2 separate regions of the Homo sapiens genome follow, and region 1 is linked to region 2. The links come from fine-mapping of genetic effects on gene expression. A gene starts in region 2. The other region holds a variant in brackets. All regions are shown on one strand. Distances are from middle to middle. Region 1 overlaps ZNF625 (zinc finger protein 625). Region 2 holds the start of ZNF823 (zinc finger protein 823).

Evidence for each region.
Region 1: its variant is fine-mapped to the expression of ZNF823 in whole blood (INTERVAL, PIP 0.98).

Annotation. Positions count from the first base shown.
Region 1 is chr19:12,146,432-12,149,342 of GRCh38, forward strand. ZNF625 (zinc finger protein 625) reads right to left here. Exons shown (of 4, transcript NM_145233.4): 2 at 1,245-1,371; 3 at 964-1,024. It overlaps ZNF625-ZNF20 (ZNF625-ZNF20 readthrough (NMD candidate)), which reads right to left. Exons shown (of 8, transcript NR_037802.1): 2 at 1,245-1,371; 3 at 964-1,024. Among named protein-coding and RNA genes, the nearest start is that of ZNF20, 7.5 kb to the left of the region's middle. The variant T/G (reference allele first, on the strand shown) is at 1,617.
Region 2 is chr19:11,737,439-11,740,349 of GRCh38, forward strand. It overlaps ZNF823 (zinc finger protein 823), which reads right to left and starts at 1,508. Exons shown (of 4, transcript NM_001080493.4): 1 at 1,379-1,508. The coding sequence starts at 1,381. RefSeq lists enhancers at 882-1,011, 1,402-1,481 and silencers at 1,082-1,231, 1,492-1,686.

The DNA of each region.
Region 1 (2,911 bases), 410 kb after region 2:
GTACTTTTTAAACATTTTTTGAGATAGGGTCTCACTCTGTCATCCAGGCTGGAGTGCGGTGGTGAGATCTCAGCTCACTGCAACCTCCATCTCCCGATCTGAAGCCGTCCTGCCACTTCAGCCTCCTGATTACCTGAGGCTACAAGCATACCATCGTGCCTGGCTAATTTTTGTATATTTGCTAGAGATGGGGTTTTGTCACATTTCCCTGGCTGGTCTCAAACTCCTAGACTCAAGCAATCTGCCCACCTCAGCCTCTTAAAGCATTAGGATTACAGGCATACACCTGGGCGCCCGGCCAACACTATTTTCAGGTAAACTATTTTACAAGTACTAACTGTCTTTGTCAATTTTATTGCTTCTGAGTCAGGGTCTTGCCCTTTAACCCAGGCTAGAGTGTAATGGTGCTATCATGGCCGAGTGTAGCCTCAAACTCTTCAGCTCAAGCAATCTCTGACCTGAACCTCCCAAAGGGCTGGATTATAGGCTTAAGCCAGGATGTTCAGCCTATGTCACACTTAAATATATGTTTTTAGAGATTTTTTTTTTTTTTGAGACGGAGTCTCGCTCAGTCGCCCAGGATGGAGTGCAGTGGCATGATCTCGGCTCACTGCAATCTCTGCCTCCCGGGTTCATGCCATTCTCCTGCCTCAGCCTCCCAAGTAGCTGGGACTACAGGTGCCCGCCATCACGCCCGGCTAATTTTTTTGGATTTTTAGTAGAGACAGGGTTTCACCATGTTAGCCAGGATGGTTTCGATCTCCTGACCTCGTGATCCGCCTGCCTCAGCCTCCCAAAGTGCTGGGATTACAGGCGTGAGCCACCACAGCCGGCCCTAGAGAAAATTTTGTAAGAATAAATACAGTGGAACTTGGCTTATTTCTTGTTTGCTTCTTTTTAACATTTTCTTCCATTCTATGATTGTCTAGAGAGACATCACTTTCTCTTGTGAATGCGAATTACCTTAGGTTTCTCCTGGGATTTTTGTACTCATCTTCAATTTTCTGATCTTTCCATTTTTTTCCTAAAATACAGAACCAGAAAAATAGTCCTGAATTAGCAAAATTATGAAAAAAGTACTAGATTCTAAGTTCATGGTACACTGCAGCCTTGCAGCATTTATTCACATTCCTATTCCCTGTCCTCACTATTCCCTGTCCACACTCCAAATCACTCAACACTACTGACAAGCTAGAAACACTTGTTCTCTAATTCACTGAGGAAAGTAATATTGTTACCCTTACCTACAGAAGCCAGGTTCCTGAAGGTTTCCTGCATCACATCTCTGTAGAGATTCTTCTGGGAAGGATCCAGCAAAGCCCACTCCTCCTGGGTGAAGTTCACATCTACATCCTCAAAGACCACTGAATCCTGAAACATCCCACATGTGTAAAGAAACATGGGTGAGACTGACAGCACTGGGTTCCTATACTCTATTCCTACAAAGTTTCCATGGTGCTATGGACTCCAAACATTTATTCCATGATCTGGTCATCAGACTTTTTACTCTGTCAACACTCACTCTTCCATAAAGAAATTCTTTTTTTTTAATTATTATTATTTTTTGAGACAGAATCTCATTCTGTCACCCAAGTGGGAGTGCAGTGGCATGATCT[T/G]GGCTCACTGCAACCTCCGCCTCCCAGGTTCAAATGATTCTCATGCTTCAGCCTCCCAAGTAGCTGAGATTATAGGCGCCTGCCACCACGCACAACTAATTTTTGTATTTTTAGTAGAGATGGGGTTTTACCATGTTGGCCAGACTGGTCTCCAACTCCTGACCACAAGTGATCCACCAGCCTTGGCCTCCCAAAGTGCTGGGATTACAGGCATGAGCCACCAAGCCTGGCTGAGGCCCTACCAATCTGACTGATAAGAGTCATAACTAACTAAAACAAAAAATCAAGAGCAGAAACCTTTCTTGGAAACTGTGCTTGGGTAGAAAAGCCTGAATTATAACTGATGAATTGCTGGAGGTTGAATGGCAACAAGATTGGAGAGGCAAAAACTCCAGGGTGTCCAGTCTCAACAAAAAGGCAAATATTTATCAAATGTAAAAACTTTTGTGTGAAATGGTGTAAGAGAACACCATCAAGAGAGAAAATGAACCCCATGTGCTCTGTCCAAAGGATGGTAAATGGCTCAGCCCCTATGGAATAGTATGACGGTGCCTGAAAAAAATAATATAACTACCATTTTTTTTTTTTTTTTGAGATAGAGTCTCACTCTGTCACACAGGCTGGAGTGCAGTGGCACAATCTTGGCTCACTGCAACCTCAGCCTCCCAGGTTCAAGCAATTTTCTGCCTCAGCCTCCCAAGTAGCTGGGATTACAGGCGCCCGCCACCATGCCTGGCTAATTTTTGTATTTTTTTTAGTAGAGACAGGGTTTCACCGTCTTGGCCAGGCTGGTTTTGAACTCCTGACCTTGTGATCCACCTGTCTCGGCCTCCCAAAGTGTTGGGATTACAGGCATGAGCCACTGCGCCTGGCCAAAATTAACATATCTTTCAGCAATCTACTTTTGTGTCTACTTATTTTCAATTAAAAAAAAATTGAAATCCAGATCTTGAAGACACATTTGAAAACCACTGTTAACAATAGCCAACTTTGGGAGGCCAAGGCAGGTGGATCACGAGGTCAGGAGATCAAGACCATTCTGGCCAACATAGTGAAACCCCGTCTCTTCTAAAAATACAAAAATTAGCTGGTGTGGTGGCGGTGGCGTATGCCTGTAATCCCAGCTACTCAGGAGGCTGAGGCAGGAGAATCACTTGAACAAGGGAGTCGGAGGTTGCAGTGAGCTGAGATCTCACCACTGCACTCCAGCCTGGCGACAGAGCAAGACTCAGTCTCAAAAAAAAAAAAAAAAAAAAATCAGTAGCCAAGAGCTGCATCAATCCACCTGTCCATTC
Region 2 (2,911 bases):
TTTAGTAGAGACGGAGTTCCTCCATGTTGGTCAGGCTGGTCTCGAACTCCCGACCTCAGGTGATCCGCCAGCCTTAGCCTCCCAAAGTGCTGGGATTACAGGCGTGAGCCACCGCGCCCGGCTTTTTTTTTTTTTTTTTTTTTTTCACACTGGAGTCAAGTGGTTATTCTTTGCTTCCTCACATGTGAAATGTTCACAAACACAAAAACACATCTTTTAAAAAGAGCCATACATTGCTATGTGAAAAGAAAGTGACAATTAAAATAATGCCTCTGTTTGAAATATTGCCTGAGGGACAAAGAGTTCATAAAGTTGCTGGGAATTGATGAGAGACAGTTAGCCTGGGGAAGGCTCTGAAAACCAAGAGATTTGCTGCCAGCCCTAGGAGGAGTTAGGATGAGGGGATAGGGTGGTGGATTTGAGACCCTGCTGCCCACATCTTTGGAAGACTCGGAGGGAAACCGGTCACCTTTGGGAAGAAAGAAGGGACTGGGGAACCCACAGATCACAGCTTCTCTTCCAAAGCACAAAGCCCACACACACGAGTCTGGATTCTGCCTGGTGACCCTCCGTTGTCACCGTGCAGCGTCCTCACCGGGTTCACAGGAACTGCGAGCCAGGCTGGAGGCGAGATTGCAGTTAGATATTAACCAGGTGCCCTCAGCCCCGCTGCCTCACGGGGCCGCCTCCCTGAGAGTCAGGTCACAGCAGACGCTGACCGCCGGCTTCCTCATCGTGCCCGGGGATAAGATCTCTTGAGAGTTGCTCACGGGTCGCCTCAGTTCTTTCTCGGATCCTGAATTGCAGCGGAAAGGCTGGCGCCAACCAGGCTGAAGACCCCACAAGGGAACCCACTCAGCAGAATGCGGTTTCTTCACCTCCAGTCCCAGGAGTCACCTCTCACTTCTCCACCAACCAGCGACCCCACACTCCAGCCGTCCCTGTCCACACCTCTAAACACCCCATCCCCAAACCTCTCAGGGAGGCGGATCTGGGGTGTCCTCCCCTCTCCCCCATTAAACTGTTTCTGCTGCAGCCTTCGGCGTCTCGGTGCAGTGACTCGGGCCGTGAACCTGTGCCGGTTACAACTGCACAATCTGGGGAGACGCGGAGCTGCGGGCGCGGAGCTGCCCAGAGAGGGCGCCGGGGCCGGGGCCGCAGCGGCCGAGCAGGGACGGGACAGGACGCCCGGGGTCCCGGCTGCCGCCCCAGCCCCATCTTGCGGCCCAGGGGACCAAGGGCAGAGCTGCGCCAGGGGCACTGGGATTTGCAGACCCCGGAGTCGCCCAGGGCGAGGCCCGGGTCCCCTCACGGTCGGTTCCGGCCGGTTCCAACCTGCCCCTTCTTTGCCTCGGGACGCCGGGCCCCGCACACTCACCATTTCCCAGCTTCCAGGTGTCCGGGTGTCCTCCTTAAAAGCCAGTGTGGGTCCCAGCGCGACAGACGCTGATACAGACCTTCCAGGGCGTCTCTCTCTCAGCGCCAGAGCCAGGACTCAGAGCGCAGGGGCGTGGAGAAGACTCCGCGGGCTCTTTGAACGTCGCACCCTCCTCCCTGCAGCGTGCCTGATTGACAGTTCTCACAATCCCCGCCCCCTCATCCCTGATTGGATAGTGCTCCAGGTCCCGCCCCTTGGTGGCTGATTGACAGAAGAAGCGATCTCACAGTGCTGAGTGGAGCCGGATGAACAGGTTCCAGGCACGACCCTTGGCAAGGCGGGCTTCCTCCCAACGGAGTGACCTGACCCCTCCCGAAGTGACGTTTGCATTTTAGAATTTCCTGATTGTATTCAGTGGGTTCTTCCTGCTTTTTCCTCCTGGACAGGGACTCACAAGTGTGTGCAGGGAATTCCAGGCTCCCTGTCCAGTGGAGCCATTCCCGGACCTCGGAGCAGGAGGGGAGCCCGGGGCACACAGGCCACCCTGCAGCAGGAGGGAGGGCCTGATGTCCTCCAGGGATCAGGAATTTGGGATGAGGCTGTTGGCGACGTTGCCAAGCCTTTCCCTCACCTTATCTCTCAATCTACTCATTTTCAGCCCAGAAGATAAAAACAGGACAACAAAATAAAATAGTTGAGTATGTGGAAAAACTGGAATTATATGGCAGCAATATTTCATAAAGAATCAAAAGAGAAGAAAAGCAAAAACTTGAACAAGCTCAGAGAAGCAGCCTACTGCACTCACAGTTCACAAGCAGACCCCCTTTCAGGAGGTCAAACATATCCCCAAGCTGGGAAGCCAGGCAATGATTCCTAAAATGGAGCTCCGGGGTGGATCAGAAGCTGGTGATAAGGGAGGGACAATTAAGAATTTTACTCTGAGGTCTCAAAATACCTGTCCCCTCTGCACAGCGTGGAAATGCTCCCTCCTTATGCCATTAAATGTTAATGAATTAAACGCTCCAATCAAAAGCCAAGACATCACACTTTGAATTTGAAAACATTAGCCTTTCTCCATATGTTTATGAAGTAAAAATACTAGACTTAAAAGCGTTATGGCCGGGCGCGGTGGCTCACGCCTGTAATCCCAGCACTTTGGGAGGCTGAGGCGGGTGGATCACCTGAGGTCGGGAGTTTGAGACCAGCCTGACAAACATGATGAAACCCCGTTTCTACTAAAAACGCAAAATTAGCCGGGTGTGGTGGCACGCTCCTGTAATCCCGGCTCCTCAGGAAGCTGAGGCAGGAGTATCGCTTGAACCCGGCAGGCAGAGGTTGCAGTGAGCCGACATCACACCACTGCACTCCAGCCTGGGCAACAGAGCGAGGAAAAAAAAAAACTCCATCTCAAAAAAAAAAAAAAAAAAGCGTTATGAACTAGAAGCTGGTAGCCATGGCTAAATAGAAAGGAGCTGAACATGAGATGTCAATAGATGAAATGAAATCTTCAATCAACTTCTAGAAACTATAGCA